Linked DNA regions of Homo sapiens. The protein of the gene in region 2 purifies or fractionates together with the protein of the main gene of each other region. This does not show direct contact. Each region holds a gene or a part of one and is shown on either strand. Other genes may lie near its edges.

Region 1 (7,033 bases), on a different chromosome or scaffold from region 2:
AAAGGTAAACTGAAATAGAAAGGAGAGGATGAGGTTTATACATTAGTTGAGTCAGGAGGCATTTGTGGTACATTGGAAAAAACGGGACTAACAGAAGACTTGGGTTTGAATTTGGGCTCAGTTAAAAACTTCCATTGTGTGATGTTAGGCAAGTCACTTCATTTTTCTGATCTTCTTTCCTCATTCCTTATATGTTGTAACAACTACTCAAGACTTGTGAGGAAAAGGGGAAATGATTTTTAAAAAATCAATTCTTTATTTACGTAACAAGTTGGTTATGTCCACTGCATTGTGTGAAACATTACAGTATCATATAGGAAAGTACTGTCAGTACAGTGTTGGATCACAGGATTTTTTGAGAGTGCCTTATGAGTTAGTCTCATCATTGAGGGCCAACACATATACTTTGGATAGAAAGAATAAAATCCTCAAAGTGAAATTTTGATTAATATCCTCTACCCATTTATAGGTACACCTTATTTTAACCAAAGAGTATATGTGAAGGACCTAACCATCAAAGCAGAAAAATAAGGAGATCTTTGTGAAGTTTATGAAGAGTTCATGGGCCAGGCGCAGTAGTTCACGCCTGTAATCCCAGCACTTTGGGAGGCCTAGGCAAGCGAATCACCTGAGGTCAGGAGTTCGAGATGAGCCTGGTCAACGTGGTGAAGCCCCGTCTCTACCAAAAATACAAAAATTAGCCAGGTGTGGTGGTGGGCACCTGTAATCCCAGCTACTTGGGAGGCTGAGGCAGGAAAATAGCTTGAACCTGGGGGGCGGAGGTTGCAGTGAGCTGAGATCTCGCCATTGCACTTCAGCCTGGGTGACAGAGCAAGGCTCCGTCTCAAAAAAAAAAAAAAAAAAAGTTCATGGAAGTTTTAAGTATCTAGTAATCATTTAAAAATTATTTGAGTTAAAAGTAATCGAGTCTCTGATTTTTTTTGTTTTTTTGTTTTTTGAGACAGAGTTTTGTTCTCATTGTCCAGACTGGAGTGCAGTGGCACAATCTCAGCTCACTGCAACCTCCACCTCCCAGGTTCAAGCAATTCTCCTGCCTCAGCCTCCCAAGTAGCTGGGATTACAGGCATGCGCCACCATGCCTGGCTAATTTTGTATTTTTAGTAGAGACGGGGTTTCTCCATGTTGGCCAGGCTGGTCTTGAACTCCCGACCTCAGGTGATCTGCCCGCCTCAGCCTCCCAAAGTGCTAGGATTACAGGCATCAGCCACCACACCTGGCTCAAGTCTCTGATTTTTTTTTTTTTTTTTTTTTTTTGAGGCAGAGTTTTGCTCTTGTTGCCCAGGCTGGAGTGCAATGGTGCCATCTTGGCTCATCACAACCTCTACCTCCCGGGTTCAAGCGATTCTCCTGCCTCAGCTTCCTGAGTAGCTGGGATTACAGGCATGCACCACCACACCTGGCTAATTGTGTATTTTTAGTAGCGACGGGGTTTCTCCATGTTGATCAGGCTGGTCTCAAACTCCCGACCTCAGGTGATCTGCCTGCCTCAGCCTCCCAAAGTGCTAGGATTACAGGCATCAGCCACCACACCCGGCTCGAGTCTCTGATTTTTAAAACTCTTCATAATACCCCTTTATCCAATTCTTCATAGATGGTAATAACGTATAATTGGTGACATTTCACATCGCTTTGGGCTTATAAAGAATGTATTTTGACTTCAGGCATTTGTGTTTACTGTGCCATCAGCCTCTAGTTCATTTTACTTATTCTTTTCTTCTCCAGGTTTTTCGTTGGAATATACGTTGCACATTTATGGCGATTCTGAGTGTGAGGGCAGACTTCTGCCAGGCTCAGCACAGCATTTTCGCTGACAAGTGAGCTTGGAGGTTCTATGTGCCATAATTAACATTGCCTTGAAGACTCCTGGACACCGAGACTGGCCTCAGAAATAGTTGGCTTTTTTTTTTTTTAATTGCAAGCATATTTCTTTTAATGACTCCAGTAAAATTAAGCATCAAGTAAACAAGTGGAAAGTGACCTACACTTTTAACTTGTCTCACTAGTGCCTAAATGTAGTAAAGGCTGCTTAAGTTTTGTATGTAGTTGGATTTTTTGGAGTCCGAAGGTATCCATCTGCAGAAATTGAGGCCCAAATTGAATTTGGATTCAAGTGGATTCTAAATACTTTGCTTATCTTGAAGAGAGAAGCTTCATAAGGAATAAACAAGTTGAATAGAGAAAACACTGATTGATAATAGGCATTTTAGTGGTCTTTTTAATGTTTTCTGCTGTGAAACATTTCAAGATTTATTGATTTTTTTTTTTCACTTTCCCCATCACACTCACACGCACGCTCACACTTTTTATTTGCCATAATGAACCGTCCAGCCCCTGTGGAGATCTCCTATGAGAACATGCGTTTTCTGATAACTCACAACCCTACCAATGCTACTCTCAACAAGTTCACAGAGGTAAGATTGTGGCATGGTCTACTTTTTGGATTGATTTCTAGGTAAAATCCCATTAAAAAATTCTCTTAGCACAAAGCCATTTATTCTGTATTTGGAGTCATCCTGCCAATCCTGGTTTGAATTGGGTTGGGTTAGTTACAGCAGATTTTTTCAAGAACATTTTGTGAAATTTGGGGACTGTAGAGATATCTAGTACTGTTTTCTCTGTGTTCTTTCTACATTTATTGACAGGTTTTTTTGGTCAAACATTCAGTAATGATAATTAACATTTATTGACCACGATATGCACTTAGCATTATAACAAACAATGTTACACATTATGCAACGAGCAGTGTTTGTGCTTAAGGTCACAAATACAAAAACCCTATGAGGTGTAGCTACCATTATTTCCCTCTTACCAATGAGGAAACAGGTTCAGAGCCATTTAGTAATTTGCCTAATGGCACATAGTATGTGGTGGAACTAATGTACTTGCCTAGGTGTCTGACACTAAAAACCATTCTGTATGTACTTCAGATATTCTAACCACCTTTGATGAAAAGGCACCCCCAGACTACTTCGTTGTAATAATCGTATACAAGGGTCCAGAAACTTGGGTGAAGGAAAGGTGGTAGAGGTAGTATTTTTATGTCAGATCCTTAATATTTTTTCTATTGGTAGGAGAAAAAACTCTTTGTACTTCTTTGAGCAAGCATTTGAACATAAGTTTTTTTTTTTTTTTGGGAGATGGAGTCTCGCTCTTCGCCAGGCTGGAGTGCAGTGGCACTATCTCGGCTCACTGCAAGTTCCCCCTCCCGGGTTCACGCCATTCTCCTGCCTCAGCCTCCCTGATAGCTGGGACTACAGGCACCTGCCACCACTCCCGGCTAATTTTTTGTATTTCTAGTAGAGACGGGATTTCACCATGTTAGCCAGGATGGTCTTGATCTCCTGACCTTGTGATCTGTCACCTCGGCCTCCCAAAGTGCTGGGATTACAGGCATGAGCCACCGTGCCCAGCCCTTTTTTTTTTTTTTTTTTTTGAGACGGAGTGCAGTGGCACGATCTTGGCTCACTGCAACCTGCACCTCCCAGGTTTAAGCGATTCTCCTGCCTCAGCTCCCAAGTAGCTGGGACTACAGGCGCGCGCCACCACACCCAGCTAATTTTTGTATTTTTAGTAGAGACGAAGTTTCACCGTGTTGGCCAGGATGGTCTTGATCTCTTGACCTCGTGATCCGCCTTCCTCGGCCTCCCAAAATGCTGGGATTACAGGCGTGAGCCACTGTGCCTGACCAGAACATAAGCTTTTTAATCATTCTTGGGTTGTTGAGTTTAAATGATTTTTCTTGCTGTATTTATGGAGTAGAGTTAGAAAGGTGGGTGAACTCTTAGTGATTTTCATTTTATAGATGGGAAAACTGAGACCAAAAGAGGATTTGACTTGCTTAAGGTCACAAATACCATAAAAAATTTTATCGCAACTTTTCAATGAATGGCTATTACAGAGTTTATTTTAATGGGATTTTATTTGTATTTTGAAACATTTTTAAAATTCCTGACAATACTTCTACCTTTCTTGAGTCTGTATTATAAGAAGGCCTTTTTGTGAAAAATGAAGTCCTTTAGCAATTAAAATAATTTTACACTTTAGATAACTAAATGATGGACCCTTCTTATAGGATATCACTGTGCCTGCTTATTTATACTTATAATTCCCTGAGCTTCTTAACTTTGTATACACAGCGTACAAGTTGATTCTACGCCTGTATGCCCTCAGATTGTTCAGTCACCTTTAAGCCTGGCTGAATTATGTGGTACTATTTTCAACCTGTGGATTCCTTGGCCATAGTCTCCAGAAGTGGCACAGGCCACTGTCCTCCTGCAACTATAAAAAAGATATTGGTAGCCCCTTGAAGATAGGTAGTCACTGGGTTAGGGATTCACCGTAGGGAGAGTTTTAAAGGAGCAAGGCTTCTGGCTATAACTGCATTAGCTGTCTTTTTAATATACCACTTTTTTTCTTAATTTCAGAATTTTATTTCTTTAAAAAAAGCATGTTTATTTCATAAAAATATAAAGATACAGATAAGCAAAAAGAATTTAACAACATTTAATTGTTAATAACTGGCTTCTAGATGTTTTTCTCTGCATATATCTGTGTGTATTCATAAATACACATACAGATAGGATCACACTATATATTTTTTAAAATCTTTCCCCATCTTCCTTGGTATTGTTTTTATAGCTGTCATAGTGTTCACTATATGGATGTGCCATACTTCTTTAATCATTCCCTTATTTTTGGACCATTAATGTGGTTTCTAATTTTTCACCATTCCAGTTTGTGGTGAATGTGCTGTTACCTAAATATTTGTATATGTCTTTAATTATTTCTTTTGTATAAACTCCCAGAAGTAGAATTTTTAGGTTGCAGTGTATGTGAACTTTTGTGTAAGTTTTCACGTTATGCTACCAAACTGCCCTTTAGAAAGGTGAGTCTCACACTGCCACTGAGATTTCATGAGTGTCCATTGAATATATAACCACAGTGAGAACAATTCTGATCTTTGTCTAAAAATGATATCTCATTGTTTTAATTTATAATAGTAGATTTCTTTTTTTTTTTTTTTTTTTTTTTTTTTGGAGACGGAGTCTCGCTCTGTCGCCCAGGCTGGAGTGCAGTGGCACGATCTCGGCTCACTGCAATATCTGCCTCCTGGGTTCAAGCGATTCTCCTGCCTCAGCCTCCTGAGTAGCTGGGATTACAGGCCCGCACCACCACACTCAGCTGATCTTTGTATTTTTAATAGAGACGGGGTTTCACTATGTTGGTCAGGCTGGTCTCGAACTCCTTACCTTGTGATATGCCCGCCTCAGGCCTCCCAAAGTGCTGGGATTATAGGCGTGAACCACCCCGCCCGGCCTATAATAGTACATTTCTACATTTTTGGCTGTAGGTTTCAAAAACAAGTTCCATTATAATTTTTTTTTTTTTTAAAGGAACTTAAGAAGTATGGAGTGACGACTTTGGTTCGAGTTTGTGATGCTACATATGATAAAGCTCCAGTTGAAAAAGAAGGAATCCACGTTCTAGTGAGTGTGTAGTATTTAAATTTTTCAAAACAAGTTGTATCTTTCAAACATAAATATTTATAAAACTAGGCCAGGTGCACTGGCTCACACCTATAATCCCAATATTGTGGGAAGATCACTTGAACCCAGGAGTTCAAGACCAGCCTGGGCAATGTGGCGAGATCTCATCTGTACAGATAATTAAAAAACTGGTGGGGCATGTTGGTGCACACCTGTGGTCCCAGCTACTTGGGTTTTTGAGGTGAGGGAATCACTTGAGCCCAGGTGGTTGAGACTGCAGTGAGCTGTGGCCACACCACCACATTCCAGCCTGGGTGACAGAGGGAAACCCCGTCTCAAAAAAAAAAAAAAAAAAAAAATTAAAAACTTGGTATTAGGTGGGCACGGTGGCACACATTTGTAGTCCCAGCTACTTGGGAGGCTGAAGTGAGAGGATCGCCTGAGCCTGGGAGGTCAAGGTTGCAGTGAGCCTTGATTATGCCACTGCACTCCAGCCTGGATGAGAGTAAGACCTTGTCTCAAAAACAAAAACAAAAAAACCCTGGCAGTAATACTTTTGGATTTTTTTAAGGTTGTAGTGGAAAATACATTATTGATAGCAATCTTTCAAATTCTTTTGGATTAACAAATTGGCAGTTTTGTTCATTTGTGCTCTTAAAGCCTACAAATCATAGTATTTTCAACTAATAAAAAGCAAAATTTAGTGTGCTCTTATTTTAACAACATGTAAATTTGCAAGTTTTATTTTTTAGGAAATTAATACAATATTTAGCTTTTGTTTCTAGGCTACTAATTTGAATATAATGAAAGTAATTTCCATCAGACATTCTTAAGTCCATATGGAACTCTGCCACTTTGCAAGTACAAGATTAGTTACTTAATATTTTGTGGATAACTTGTAGGAGGCAAAAAGGTGGGATAAGAGGATGAGGAGAGGTAGAAGGCATCCTCCTCCAGAGTAATCAGCATAGTTTCTGATACTTTTTGTTAGGTTTCTGAGGAGCTTTAGTATGATTAGATTTTTTGTCTAGCTCAATTTGAGCACAAAGTGATTGGAATTATTTTAAATTAAGTTCCTTTTTAGCATCAAAATAGGCTGTTTCCTTATAGCAAATGGGAGCATCAGATTAGTTAACATTTTATTCTTTCTTCCCTAAGTAGTTGTCTAAGTTGTAGGAGCAGCTTTTAGGAGCACGTAATGAAATGATCTTGTAATTTTAGATGTCTTTGAGCTGTTGGTTTGATTGTGGGAAGGTTATGTAGTAGGAAGAGAACTGGAGATTTTATAAGTAGTTAGGAAGAACGTAACAAGGAAGATACTGGTTTAAGGTTATGTTCCTGCTTCTTATTGAGAGGTAGTTCTGTAGTCTTTATTATATTGGTCAGTGGTTGGGAAGGCAGTTGATGCAAAAAGAATAATGACCTATTGGTAAGGCAGTCCTCTTATATCTGATCCATAGTTTCCTCATGTCCATTTTGGTGAAAATAAAAACTAAATAGCCAAATGTGTTTTAAAAAAATGTGTT
Region 2 (7,696 bases):
CAATTAAAATATGATGATGTGAAACATTTTTAATTTTTGCATTTTAGCATCAAATATATAATACTTAAGAGTGTGATGAAATAGAATGGGCAGAATATATAGAAAATAAAATTAATACTTGATTTTATTAAGGTGGTTTATCACAACAAATACCAACAAGAAGAGAAAAAAATCTCAGGAAAATCAACAGCATGCATGGATTTGGAATGACACTATGTAAATAAATGCAATGAAATAAAATTGACTTTTCAACACTTGGACAGCATGAAGTTCAACAGACAAATCCATTAAAAAGGGAAATAAAAGCTCAATCTCAAGGTGAAATTTTTGTCCATGACACTCTCGAATTCTAGATCTGAAAAAGTTTGGGATAAATGGCAGAAAACAACGCGTCATCACGAGATCTCTAATTTAATCCAAAGCTATTCCGGAAGGCAGCAGTTTTCCCTATTTCTTCACCAGCGCCCTGGGGCAAAAGGTTAGGAATAATCGGCTTCAGGAACTTGAACTCGCCGGCCCCTGAGTCTCCGGTCAAACACACCTCGTAGTGGTAGCTCTGGGATAGGGTCCCGGTGCCGCTCACGTCCACCAGATGCCCTGGAAAGGGGCCCTCGGGCACCGAGCAGCGACCGACCGGGGCCGCCCTGCTCCTCCTGCACAGCCGCACTGCCACGAACAGGAGCACCGAAAAGAGGAAGAGCGACGACACCGAGGCCAATGCCACCACCAGGTAGACAGTGAGCGAGTCGGCCTGGGCCTGGGCCGGGGCCGCCTCCGGCAGCGGCAGGTAGGGCTGGGAGAAGCCGTCCACCAGGAGCACGTGCAGCGTGGCGGTGGCCGAGCGCGGAGGCTCGCCATTGTCCTTGACCAGCACCACCAGCCTGTGCTTGGCCGCGTCGCGCTCGCTCAGCAGCCTGGCGGTGCGCACCTCGCCATTGTGCGCCCACATGCTGAACAGCCCGGGCTCCGTGGCCTTGAGCAGCTGGTACGACAGCCAGGCGTTCTGGCCCGAGTCACCGTCCACCGCCACCACCTTGGTCACCAGGTAGCCCGGCTCGGCCGCCCGGGGCACCAGCTCGGTGCAAGGCGCCGAGCCGTTCTGCAGCGGATACAGCACGAAGGGCGAGTTGTCGTTGGCGTCCAGCACCAGCACGCGCACCAGCGCCTCGCTGCTCAGCGCCGGGGAGCCGCGGTCTGTGGCTCCCACGCGGAACTCGAACGCCTGCAGGGCCTCGTAGTCCAGCGACCTGAGGGCAAACAGGTGGCCGTTGTCCGCGTTGATGGAGACCAGGGAGGCGAGGCGCAGGTGTGGGTTCTGGGGCGGCAGCAGCGAGTAGGTGACCTGGGCGTTGGTGCCTGAGTCTCTGTCTGTGGCGCTGACACTGCCGATGTGCAGGGCGGGGCTGTTGTTCTCTCGGACGAACAGGGTGTAGGAGGTTTGGGTGAAGGCGGGGGCGTTGTCATTGACGTCGGAGACCAGGACCGTTATGTTGTGCTCGGTTTTCAGCCTGGGTGTCCCCATGTCGGTGACAGTGATGGTGATGTTGTACTCGGCTTGGCTCTCTCTGTCCAGTGTTCTCTGTGTCACTAGGGTGTAAAAGTTTTTTAATGTGGGCTTCAAAAGAAAGGGGAGATCATTCTGGATGGAGCAAATCATCCTACCGTTGTCCCCGGAGTCTGGATCAGAAACACTGAAAACGGCAACTACAGTTTCCGGGGCATTTTCTGGGGTAGGGCTGGAGAGCGTAGACATGGTGAGTTCAGGGGCGTTGTCATTCACATCCACCACTTCTATAGCCACAGTGCATTTTCCTGAAAGGCCCCCACCATCTGTGGCTACAATTTCCACGTTATAATATGGAGTTGCCTCGAAATCCAATGCCCTTTTCAGGCGAATTTCTGCTGTTTTCTCGTCTATTACAAATGGTTGAGTAACTTCATCGCCTTGGAATAGAGCATAGGCTACACTCCCATATGCTCCTGCATCTAAATCTCGAGCGGAGACAACGACAACTAAGGAGTTAAGGGGGCTGTTCTCGGGCACCTGTACCTCATAGAATGATTGTAAAAATTCGGGGGCGTTGTCATTATTATCCAAGACGACAATGCGAATTGTGGTGGTCCCGGACCTGGGCGGAGCCCCACCGTCCAGTGCAGTGAGTGTTAAGCTGAGCTCAGGCCGCTCCTCCCGGTCCAGCGCTTTGTCCAGCACCAGCTCTGGGTATTTTCTGCCATCTCCGCGATTATGCGTAGCAACATGAAAGTGTGAATTTGGGCTGATTGTGTAGTTCTGAACAGTGTTGCTACCTATGTCAAAGTCCTGGGCTATTTTTAAGGGAAACACAGTCCCTGGCTGGGTGCTCTCTGGGATTTTTAGGAGCATTTCCTTCTCTGGGAACTCTGGGGCATGGTCATTTATATCTGTGAGCTGCAGATCAGTTTGAAAAAACTGCACTGGATTTTCTAGTAAGAGCTGGAAATGCAATATACAGGGTTCTGTCGCCCCGCACATCACCTCCCGGTCTAGTTTTTCATATAGAAGCAAATTGCCGGTCTTTATATCAAGCTGCAAGAGCTCTTTGTTTCCTTTGTAATGCATTCGCGCGCCCCGAGTGGCCAGTTCCCCCACCCCAAGACCCAGGTCTTTTGCCAGGTTGGCCACAGAATAGCCACTTTCTGTTTCTTCTGGTATGGAATACCTAACTGCCTCAGAGCCAGCCTCCCACAAAAGCAACAATATAGCAAGAAACATAACTTGCCTTTTCTGTGGCGTTTTTGCTAGCGCAGTCTCCATTGTTCAGACCCGGTCCAGAAGGCGCAGTTTAACTCCGTACACAATCCACCCAGATGATTTGCATAAATAACCGCGAATCCGATCTTTCTTGACTGATTTCCACAAGAACGAAGCCCACCCTGAAGATCTAGCCACTAGATCTTACCTAAAATGCGTCCTTCTTTTAGAGTTTGGATTCCCCAGCTTAATGGCGTCTGAGTTATCCGCAGAGCCCACTATCCACACTCTTAGCCTGCAGCGCCACCAGGCGTCCTAATTTACTATTGCATATAGTATTTGCCATTTCATCCTAAATTCTAACTGACGTGTATCCATACCCTTTTGTCACATAAGCTCTCCCGATGGTATCTCCAGCTCTTAGTTGCTGAAAGTTCTAAATAAATGTTGTGGAGTTAATTTTCAGTGAGAAAATACTTTTGAGAAAAAAACTAAAATTATATATTAATCTCCATAAAAGTACCCTTGAGTACACAAATACACTTTGTTTGGTGTTTCTTATTTGATTATATTAAATAAGTGATCAGGAATATCTATAGAAATTTAAAGTTTAAGAAAAATTACTTTCACTTTGAAGTAAACACCAATAACACCCAGAAAATGGCACAAATCATAGGTGTATAACTCAATGAATTTTCGCAAAGTGAACACACTCCTGTAAGTAGAACCTAGATTAAAAATACTACCCAAACCCAAGTCCCCACCTGCTATTGTCTGGTTACCACCCTCTCCCCAAAAGATAAGCACTGTCCTGACTTCTGTTGTCATAGGTTTTTTTTGCTTTTTTTTTTTTTAACTTTATACAAATGGAGTTATAGATTGTTACTCTCGTGTGTCTGGCTTCTTCTCCTCAATATTATGTTCAGCAAATTGATCTGTGGCATCTTGTTCTTATTTGTTTTATTCTCATTGCTTTATATCATTCTGTTGTATGAATATACTATGATTTATTTATTCATTCTCCAGTTGATGAACATTGTTTTCCAGGTTTAAGCTCTTTGGGGTAGTACTGGTATAAACATCCTTGTACTAGTCTTTTGGTGACCACATATATGTGTTTATGTTGAATATATTCAAAGGAGTTGGATTGCTATGCATTAAGATGTGCACATATATTTTGCTTTAGCAGATAATGAGAAAGTTTTCTCAAGTAGTCGTACTAATACCAGCAAAGTATGAGAGTTCCAGTTGCTCCACATTCTTGTCAACATTTGATGCTATCTTTTCCATTTTAAACCACTCTGGTTAGTGTATGGTGATATGATATTGTAATTTTAGTTAGCATTTTCCCTGATGATTAAACAATTTGAGCACATTTTCATGTTTATCAGCCATTAGGATACAATCTTGTGAAGGGCTTATGCAAACCTTTTTACTTTTTTGGGGGGAGGCATTTGCCTGTTTGCTTATTGATCTGCAGAAGTTTCTCATATATTCTGGGCATAAGTCCTTTTTAAGATATATGTATTGCAAATATCTTTTCCCACTCTATGGTTTTTATTTCAAGTCTATTATGTGTCTTTGATGAATAAAATTTCTTACCTTTAGTCAGATTTGTCAATAAGTTTCATGTATGATTAGCATTTTTTTGTGTTCTATTTAAATGTTCACATACTCCAAGGTCATGAAAATATTCTTGTATGATGTATTTTGAAAGATTAATTATTCCATTTTTCATATTTAAAGCTATAATCAACCTGAAATTAACTTTTCAAGTGAATGAGTTTGGAGTCAAAAGGTTTAAAATGTAAGTATCTGAATGCTTTAAACCTTTGCACCATCTATTTAAAAGACAATCCATTTTCCATTGTTTTTGAAATGTCATCTTTGTTATAAATTAGGTAACCATAGCTCTGAAGATGTTTTATTCAATCTTGTTTATCCTACAATAACTCATTGTGTTAATTATTATAGCTTTATCATGAGTTTTGTTATCTGAGAAGTAAGTTCTCCAGTTTTTTAAAAGTAGACTAAATTTTTAGAATGGTTTTTGGTTCACAGCAAAAATGAGAGTAAAGTACAGAGATTTCATATATGCCCCTGTCCCCACACAAGCACAGCCTCACCCATTATCAACATCCTCCACCAGAGTGGTTCATTTGCTACAGCTGATGAATCTACATTGGCACGTCATTATAACCTGGAGTCCATAGTTTACATTAGGGCCCATTCTTGGTGCTGTATATTCTATGGCTTTGGACAAATTTAAAATTATGTGTATTCACCTTTATAATATCATACAAAGTAGTTTCACTGCTCTAAAAATCCCCTGTGCTCCACTTATTTATACCTCCCTCCCTCCCCTAGAACCCAATGCAAGTGGATTTTTTTACTGTCTCCACAGTTTTGCTTTTTCTAGAGCACCATGTAGTTGAAATCACACAGTATGTAGTCTTTTCAGATTGGCTTCTTTCACTTAGTAATATCCATTTAGATTTCCTCAATGTCTTTTCATGGGTTGTTAGGTCATTTCTTTTTGATGCTGAATAGTATTCTATGGGTTGAATGAACTGCAGTTTGTTTATCTATTCACCTACTAAACGACATCTTGGTTGCTTCCACGTTTTGGCAATTATGAATGAACTGCTATAAACGTCTCTGTGCAAGTTTTTGTGTGAACATAAATTTTCAACTCCTTTGGGCAAATACTAAGGAACATGAGTGCTAGATAACATGGTAAGAGTATATTTTGTTTTGTATCAAACTGCCAAACTGTCTTCCAAAGTGTCTGTACCATTTTGCATTCCCACCAGCAATGAATGAGAGCTCCTTTTGCTCTCATTACCAGCATTTGGCACTGTCAGTGTCCTGAAGTTTGGTCATTCTAATAGGTGTGTAGTCATATTTCACTGTTATTTTAATTTGCATTTCCCTGTTAACATATGATATGGAGCATCTTTTCATATGTTTATTTGCCACCTGTATACCTTCTTTGGTGGGTGTCTCTTAAGGTCTTTGCCTTATTTTTAAATTGGGTTCTTGTTGCTGAGTTTTAGTCGTTCTTTGTATATTTTGAATAACAGTCCTTTATCAGATATGCCTTTTGCAAATATTTTCTCCTAGTTTATGTCTTGTCTTTTCATTCTCTTCATAGTATCTTTTGCAGAGCAGAAAGTTTTAATTTTAATGAAGTCCAGCTTATTAACTCTTTATTCTGCGGATTGTGACTTTGGTGTGGTATCTCTAGTTTGGTTCCTTTTCATCAGGGTTCCTTTGGTTATTACTGTTTTTGTATTTTCAAATAAACTTAATGCTCGGCTCATTAATTTTCACAAAGAAAGCTGCTGGAATTTTGTTTAAGATTTTATTGAATCTATAGATTGACTAAGAGATAACTGACATATTCCCAACATTGAGTCTTCCAATTAGTGAACATTGTATATTCCTGTAATTATTTAGATCTTCTTTAATTTTTCTCATATTTTAGTTTTCAATGTAGAAGTCTTATACATATTCAACTAGATTTGTTTATAAATAGCTGCTATTTTTGAAATTATTGTGCATAATGTTTAAATTTTTCACTTTTTTTGTTGCTAAATAGAAATAGAACTCATGTTTGTATGTTGACCTTGTATCCAGTGGCATTGTTAACTTCATTTATTAATTCCAGTAGCCTGTAGATTCTTCATGGCTTGCAAGGTATACAAGTATGTCCACTTAAAAAGACATTTTTATTTCTTCCCTTCGAATCATAGTGCCTTTTATTCCTTCTTTGCTTTATTCCGCTGTTTAGGACCTGTGATAGAATACTAAATTGGAGAAGAAAAGACAGGTATCCTTGTTTCATTCTTGATCTCCAGGGGAAAATTTTTGAAAATTTATTGTTAATGATGTTTCCTGTAGGTTTTTAAAGTCACTCTGAAAGTTCCCTTTGATTTTAGTTTGCTAATAATTTTACCACTACTGTGTGTTGAATTTTATCACATGACTTTTTTCTGTATCCATTGAAATAATCATGTTTTGTTCTTTATCTTTTAATATGGTAAATTACAATGATCAATTTTCAAATATTAAACTGCCTCTGTATTCCTAAAATAAACTCCATTTTCCAATTATTATTTTTCTTTTATACATTTTAAAATTTTATTTGCTAATATTTTTAAAAATGAATTTTCCATACATATTTATAAAAAAGAATAGTAATTTTCTTTTCTTATAATATCCTATTCAGGTTTGAATGTTATAACCTATTCAGATTTATGCTGGCACCCAAATGATTTGGAAAATGTCTATTTTTCTACTCTCTGAAGGAGTTTGTACAAATTAGTGATAATTTTGACATAAGTATTTGGGAGAATTCACTGCTGTGAATTAGAGTGGGAAGGTTTTTAATGAACAACTTTAATTAATATAATAGATATGACTAATCAGATCTTAATTTCGTCCTGTTTCAGTTTCGGAAAATTGTGTTTTTAAAGGATGGTTTCTGTTTTACATAAATTGTCAAGTTTATTGGCATAAAATTGTTCATAATATTTCTTTTTTATTTTTTAAATGTCTGTAGGTTGGTAGTTGTGTTTTTTTTATCCTGATATTGGCAGTTGGTGTTTTCCCTCTTTTTTTCTTGATTAGTCTAAGAGTTTTAAATTTTAATCATTGTAGAAACCAACTTTTTGCTTCACTGATTTCCTCTGTTGTATATTTGTCATTTATTTTGTTTCTGCCTATGTGTGTGTGTATAAAATTGTCTTCCATCTTTATTTGCATTTGATTTGCTGTTCTTTTTCTAGCTTCTTGAGATGAAAGCTTAGATTATTGATTTTTAGCCTTTCTTTTCTAACATGTGCATTTAAGATTTTAAATTTCCCTCTAAGTACTGTTTTGATACGCCAGGTGTTAATTTTTCCCCGTTCAAAATATTTGGAAATTTCTGTTGTGATTTCTTTTTGACTCATGGATTATGCA
Region 3 (7,033 bases), on a different chromosome or scaffold from region 2:
CACCTTGCGTCCAGGCCTGCTGGCACTCCCTCCCAGTTGATCTGAGTTTTCCTGGAGCCGGCCCCAGGGCCCGCCAGCCTATTCTGTCAGCCCTAGGCCAGCACAGAGGGCTCGGGTGCCCAGGGGCTGCCTCAGCCTGCGCCCCTCAGAGCTCCTCCGGGCTGGACCCGAGACCCCACAGCCGCCCCGATCTCAGCTGCGTTGGGCGCGCAGGGGTGGGGCAGCTGAACATGATTTTCCACTTTGTGTCCCCAATCAGACCTGCCTGACCAGTGCACGCCCAACCCCTGCGATAGGAAGGGGACCCAAGCCTGCCAGGACCTCATGGGCAACTTCTTCTGCCTGTGTAAAGCTGGCTGGGGGGGCCGGCTCTGCGACAAAGGTACGTGAGGCTGAAGACAAAGGCGGGGTCTCCCTCCATCTCCGACCCTGCCCTGATCCCCGCTCCTCACTCCCACTCCGGGGCACGGCCATCCTCAGGCTGCTCTCCGACAGCCCCAAGGAGGCTGCAGCCCTGAGGTATCCTGGAGCCCCAGGAGAATTGGGAGGAGCTGCAGTCTCCTTTCTGGGAGCAGGGCTGGAAGGAAAGGAAACACCAAGTGATGCCTCAGCACCCACTGATTGAAGGGCGGGGGGGGAAATTTCACCTCTGACCGTCCTTGAGTGCAGACCTGTGGTGTCAGTGGCACCCACTGATTGAAAGGCGGGGGGGAAATTTCACCTCTGACCGTCCTTGAGTGCAGACCTGTGGTGTCAGTGGCACCCACTGATTGAAAGGCCGGGGGGAGATTTCACCTCTGACCGTCCTTCAGTGTAGACCTGTGGTGTCAGTGAAGACCCTGGAGGAAGAATAGCTCCAGGGCCTGGTGGAGACCCATAGTGGAGAGCCCAGCAGGCCAGCCTGTCCCCTTTGGCAAATCCTACCCCACAGGTGGCCTGGGAGGGCTTTGCTAAGGAGTGGCCAGCTCTGGCCTGGCCTTGTCTGTCCTCGGCACCCAGAGGTCACTCCTGGCCTGCAGCCTCCTCCTGCAAGCACATGGGCATCCAGGGAGCTGAGCCCTGTGGGCTGTGACTGCCAGCAGCTCCCCAGGCTGAGACCGCAGCTGGGGATCCCCCATGCCCTCCCACCATCTACCTCCACACGCAAGGCCAGGACCAGGGGCCATGAAACGCTAGGGCTGCTGAGTGGGGTGTGAGGTCCAAGCCCTGGGGTCCCTCTCTGCTCCAGGGCTGGGCTGTGCACCTCTAGGATCTCTCTCTGCTCGGGGGCTGGGCTGTGCACTCCCAGGCTCTCTCCCTGCTCCAGGGCTGGGCTGTGCACACCCGCGGTCCCTTCCTCCTGCTCCAGTGCTGGGCTGTGCACCCCCCCGGCTCCTTCCCTGCTCCAGTGCTGGGCTGTGCACCCCCGGGCTCCCTCCCTGCTCCAGGGCTGGGCTGTGCACCCCCGGGGTCCCTTCCTCCTGCTGCGGGGCTGGGCTGTGCACCCCCGGGCTCCCTCCCTGCTCCAGGGCTGGGCTGTGCACCCCCGGGGTCCCTTCCTCCTGCTCCGGGGCTGGGCTGTGCACCCCCGGGCTCCCTCCCTGCTCCAGGGCTGGGCTGTGCACCCCCGGGGTCCCCTCCTCCTGCTCCGGGGCTGGGCTGTGCACCCCTGGGCTCCCTCCCTGCTCCAGGGCTGGGCTGTGCACCCCCGGGGTCCCTTCCTCCTGCTCCGGGGCTAGGCTGTGACCCCTGGTCTCCCTCCCTGCTCCAGGGCTGGGCTGTGCACCTTTGGGATCTCTCTCTGCTCCAGGGCTGGGCTGTGCACCTCTGGGCTCCCTCCCTGCTCCAGGGCTGGGCTGTGCACCTCTGGGATCTCTTCCTACCGTAGCCAGGGGCTGTGCACCCTTGGGCTCCCCTTCAGGCCTGTGCTTGTTCCCAGATGTCAACGAATGCAGCCAGGAGAACGGGGGCTGCCTCCAGATCTGCCACAACAAGCCGGGTAGCTTCCACTGTTCCTGCCACAGCGGCTTCGAGCTCTCCTCTGATGGCAGGACCTGCCAAGGTAAGGCCCTGGGGTGAGGCCTCTCTCCTCTCTCCTCTCCCCACCTTCTATTTTCGGTCATGTCTGCTCTTCTGCAAGCGGCTGCTGCTGGCTGGGTTCCTGTGGTTCTGGATGGGATGGGGCATCCTGCAGAGACTACACAAGCCCAGGCCAGCCGCAGCACAGGGAGCTGCTCGGCACCACACCAGGATGACTCACCCGGCATCTGAGGGCCAGGACTCAGGGGGCCGGCCCAGCCCATGAGGCCACACTGCTGGCTGTAGGGCCTCGTCCATTCCCCAGAGCCTCACAGAGCCTGGAAGTGCTCCAGGCACTTGTGTAGTGAGCTTGTGGGTCAGGGCTCCAGGCTAGGGTCCCCCCGCCGTCCACTCTCCCCAGCATCCCCAGAAGCACCCCGTTGTTGGTCTCCCTCTGTCCACTAAATATAGCCCTGCCCTCCCCACTTCCTTTCATATTTCAGTCTGGGGTTCCCTCAGCCCAGGGCCAGAGCTGGGGAGCCCCAGGACACCCCAGAAAGTCACTGTGAATGTGCGCGCCCCCGACGCTGTTCCAGGTGCTGCTGCTGCCACTGGCCCTTTGCCACTTTGCAGGGGGAGCACCTTCCTCCTCCCTCCCCACGTTGTATCTGGACATGCCCAGGCGTGTCCCTGAGAGTTTCTGGCATAGTTCTTAGCGCTGCTGCTGACTGTCCAGGACACCGAACTGCGTGGACAGGACAGACAGTTGCTCAGGGAGAAACAGCCCCAGGATCTGGAGAGTGAATCTGACCAGACAGGAGGGGCCACACCCCATCCCCCGATTTCAAAAGGCAGCTGCTATTTCTGTCCACTTTGGTGGTTCCCTTCCCTGACCACCCAGGAGTTAGCCCTGTGTGCAGATGACGTGATTCCCATCTTAACACATAAACCCATTTCCCCGCCGAGGACAGAGCCCCTCCCATCACTGCTCTATCCCTGACCTGGAAGACAGCAGCACCCCAGGTTTAAAGAGAGGTGAAGACTAGGCCGATCCTGAGAGATGACGTCTAAAGCATCTCCCGTGGGTCCCTGCACCAGTCGGGCACTCCCGGCAAAGTCTAGGCTCACAGTTACTGCCCACAGTGACAGAGGCATTCCCGTCCTCTCCTCCTCCTCCCCATCTTCCTCTTCCTCCCCACCATTCCCCCTCCTCCTTTCCCCACTCCCCCTCCTCCTCTCCCCACTCCCCCTCCTCCTCCCCCCCACTCCCCCTCCTCCTCCCCATCTTCCTCCTCCTCCTCATCTTCCTCCTCCTCTTTCTTCTCCTCCTCCCCCCACTCCCCCTCTTCCTCCCCATCTTCTTCCTCCCCCTCCTCCTCCTCATTCCCCTCTTCTTCCTCCTCATTCCCCTCTTCTTCCTCCTCATTCCCCCTCCTCTTTTTCCCCCTCCTCCTCCCCCATCCTTATTTCCCCTCTCCTCCTCCTCCCCCACCCCTCCCCACCCCCTCCCTCACCCCTCCCCACCCCCTCCCTCACCCCTCCCCACCCCCTCCCTCACCTCCTCCCCCACCCCTCCCTCACCTTCTCCTCTTCCTCCCTGCTTCTCCTCCTCCTCCCCCTCCGTCGTCCTCCCCCTCCGTCCTCCTCCCCCTCCGTCCTCCTCCTTCCCTTCCCCATTCTCCTCCCCCTCCCCCTCCTCCTCCCCCTCCTCCTCCTCCCCCTCCTCCCCCTCCTCTCCATCCTCTCCCTACCCCCTCCTCCTCCCCTCCTCCCCTCCCCCTCCTCTTCTCCCCCTCCCCTTCTCCCCCTCCCCCTTCTCCCCCTCCCCCTTCTCCCCCTCCTCCTCCTCCTCTTCCTCCTTCCCCTCCCCCCTTCCTCCTCCCACTCCTACTCCCCCTTCTCCTCCCCCACCTTTCTCCGTGCCCCTGCCTTTGCTCTCCTCTGGTGACTAAAGGGCTCTTCATTTCAGGGTTGCCCCTCCTACCCCAGGGTGCTTGGCCGTAAACAGCATCTGTCCCACATTAGATGCTCAAGTCTTAGGATTGTGGTTTAACCCGGTAGTGAAAATTGATTGAAACCAGTAAATGCTTCTCTTTGGGGTTGGGGTTTTAGTTTCAAATGCCCCCGGGGGGTTACTTTTTACGGCCCCGTGTCCTGTAGCACCGTCATTTAAATGGAACAGCACAGCGTGCACCGCCGCCCCCCACCCCTCCACCAAGCAGGGCCCTTCCCAGCTCTCCACCTGCTGGGCTGAAGTCAGCCTTCCCAGCCGGGCCTTGATCAGAAGCGTGCACCAACACCCCGGGAGCTGCCCGGTCAGGGGAGGAGGGCAGGGAAATGGGGCCAGGGCGCGCTGGCCCCACAGAGTCTGGATGCGACCTCTGGGTGGTGCCCTGGCCAGTCCCTGCAGCCGCCTGCCCCAGCCCCGTCTGAGATGCCGCTGTGCTGCGGTTGGCCGGTTTTTTTTTGCTTGCAGACATAGACGAGTGCGCAGACTCGGAGGCCTGCGGGGAGGCGCGCTGCAAGAACCTGCCCGGCTCCTACTCCTGCCTCTGTGACGAGGGCTTTGCGTACAGCTCCCAGGAGAAGGCTTGCCGAGGTACCCACGCCACGCGGTCACCCTCGCTTTCTCTGACGCCCAAGTCTAGACACGGGTGCCAGTCACTGCCCGAGCCGGTTGCTAACAACCGGGTGCTTCTGGTGAAAGAAAGTCTCTTTCTCCCTGTTTCTATCAGCCTGGTAATGGCCTGTGCTACCACCATGCCCGCACACACGTGAGCACACACAGGCACCCATGCCCCTTGTGCACATGAACGAACCGCACACATGCATATACACCGCATGTACACACGTGTGTACCCTTCTCCACCTGCATAGACGGGGCCTCTCCCCAAAGGGACGGGGAGCAGCAAGCCTCCCTCTACTGTTCTCTCTTTCCAGCCGCCATGGGGAGGGCCCTGTTGGCCGTAGAGCCTCTAAGAGGGGCCGTGCCCCCAGTGATGGGAACAGTGGGGCTGAGTAGGCAGACAGAGAGGGTGGGGAAGCCCAGGCTGCCTGCACTGACCTCCATTTCCCACCACAGCTGTCGGCCCCTCTGTGCTCCGGGGGACACCTCACTGCACAGCCCAGACCCTGTGCTTCCCAGACCTGCCTTCCACACCGGCCCGGCAGCGGGGGTGGGTCTGGCTCGTTGGGAGCACCCTCCTGGGACACCTGCGACATTTTTATTCCCTCAAGAAAGAGCCCGGGCAGGAGCAGGCCGAGGGTGCAACCTAGCTTTCCAGTGGGGGGGGACGCGACCCCCAAGCCGCCCCCGTTAGAATCTGCATGTAATTCCTTGAGCGCACCTTGCGTGTGGTTTGAGCAATCGCGGTGTGATCCCACGGCGGGACAGCGTAGAGGCCTCCCCGGCTCACCGCCGCTTCCCTCTGGCTGGCAGATGTGGACGAGTGTCTGCAGGGCCGCTGTGAGCAGGTCTGCGTGAACTCCCCAGGGAGCTACACCTGCCACTGTGACGGGCGTGGGGGCCTCAAGCTGTCCCAGGACATGGACACCTGTGAGGTAGGCGGCCCCTGGCCCCGCGGGCCCTTCACGGTGGTTCCGGGGGCCCTCGCCGGTGGGGGCTTTCGGGAGAAACACTTCCGTGAAGACCTGGCCTTTGCTAAGGTGTTGGGGATCTCCAGGGCCATGTGGAGGTTTGGGATGAGAAACGCTTCTGTTCCCTGGAAGATGTTTGGTTGTATTTATAGAGTCTCTATGGCAACTCCCAGCTCACAGTGGATCAGCCTGGTGTGGACCCCAGTGTGACACTCACGGGGGCACGGTCCCCACTCTGCCGCGTGCCAGGGAGCCAACGTGACCGACCTGTCACACCGGTGCCTGTCACACCGACCTGTCACACCGGGGCCTGTCACACCGGTGCCTGTCACAGCATGACCTACCTGTCACACCGGGGCCTGTCACACTGGTGCCTGTCACACCGACCTGTCACACCGGGGCCTATCACAGCATGACCTACCTGTCACACTGGTGCCTGTCACACCGACCTGTCACACCGGGGCCTATCACAGCATGACCTACCTGTCACACCGGGGCCTGTCACACTGGTGTCTGTCACACCGACCTGTCACACCGGGGCCTGTCACAGCATGACCTACCTGTCACACCGGGGCCTGTCACACTGGTGCCTGTCACACCGACCTGTCACACCACTGCCTGTCACACTGACTTGTCACACCAGTGTCTCACACCGACCTGTCACAACAGTACCTGTCACACTGACCTGTCACACCGGTGCCTGTCACACCACTGCCTGTCACACTGACTTGTCACACCAGTGTCTCACACCGACCTGTCACAACAGTACCTGTCACACCGACCTGTCACACCGGTGCCTGTCACACCACTGCCTGTCACACTGACTTGTCACCGGTGTCTGTCACACCGACCTGTCACACTGGTGCCTGTCACACTGGTGCCTGTCACACCGACCTGTCACACCGGTGCCTGTCACACCGACCTGTCACACTGACCTGTCACACCGGTAGGAATGCAGTACCCACATGTGGACGTTTCTGGGCAGGGCGGCTCTTGTCTTTCCTCTTCAGCCTGGGCCTGTGCCTGGGGGTTGATGAGAGTGAGCATTTATTTAAAAAGCAAAACCACAGGTGGAAAGAGTCACCAGGACAGCTTCTCGGAGTCGCAGACCTGGGATGCAGCCGTGGGGCTCTTGGGTCTGGGCTGCGACGTTCAGGGCTTCCAGCCAGCCCTCGCCTTGAGGTTCTTTGCCTCGCTGCCTCATGTACTCATGCAGAGGGTGTCGGACCCCTGCGAGATGTCCAGCTCACCCTGGCTGCCCACGGTGGGCAGGGCAGGCCTGGCTCAGCCCCAGCCCCTCCATCTTCCAGGGGTGTCAGCTCACACCGGCTTTGGTTCTGTCCCCCTTCGGGCAGCGTGGAGAAACCACAGCCCAGAACAGGGAACTTTCCAGGACAGCCATCTTCAAGGCATCCATATCTATTTCATAATAGTGTAT

What was found. Proteins that work in one complex are often made in the same cells at the same time.
Region 1: the proteins of PCDHB5 (region 2) and PTP4A2 purify together in Homo sapiens (affinity purification with mass spectrometry; 2 studies listed by BioGRID and IntAct, with this or other methods). This does not show direct contact.
Region 3: the proteins of PCDHB5 (region 2) and GAS6 purify together in Homo sapiens (affinity purification with mass spectrometry; 2 studies listed by BioGRID and IntAct, with this or other methods). This does not show direct contact.

Annotation. Positions count from the first base shown.
Region 1 is NC_000001.11:31,914,369-31,921,401, reverse strand, and holds part of PTP4A2 (protein tyrosine phosphatase type IVA 2), read left to right. Parts: intron 1-1,743; 5' UTR 1,744-1,773; coding exon of another isoform or gene 1,774-1,839; 5' UTR 1,840-2,336; coding exon 2,337-2,432; intron 2,433-5,414; coding exon 5,415-5,507; intron 5,508-7,033. Other genes in the region: uncharacterized LOC128031832, read left to right, coding at 1,774-1,839.
Region 2 is NC_000005.10:141,130,533-141,138,228, reverse strand, and holds the start of PCDHB5 (protocadherin beta-5 precursor), read right to left. Parts: upstream 3,024-7,696; 5' UTR 2,795-3,023; coding exon 407-2,794; 3' UTR 1-406. UniProt on the Homo sapiens protein: Potential calcium-dependent cell-adhesion protein. May be involved in the establishment and maintenance of specific neuronal connections in the brain.
Region 3 is NC_000013.11:113,833,077-113,840,109, reverse strand, and holds part of GAS6 (growth arrest-specific protein 6 precursor), read left to right. Parts: intron 1-259; coding exon 260-382; intron 383-1,862; exon of another isoform or gene 1,863-1,918; coding exon 1,919-2,041; intron 2,042-4,474; coding exon 4,475-4,597; intron 4,598-5,345; exon of another isoform or gene 5,346-5,426; intron 5,427-5,437; coding exon 5,438-5,559; intron 5,560-6,530; exon of another isoform or gene 6,531-6,618; intron 6,619-7,033. UniProt on the Homo sapiens protein: Ligand for tyrosine-protein kinase receptors AXL, TYRO3 and MER whose signaling is implicated in cell growth and survival, cell adhesion and cell migration.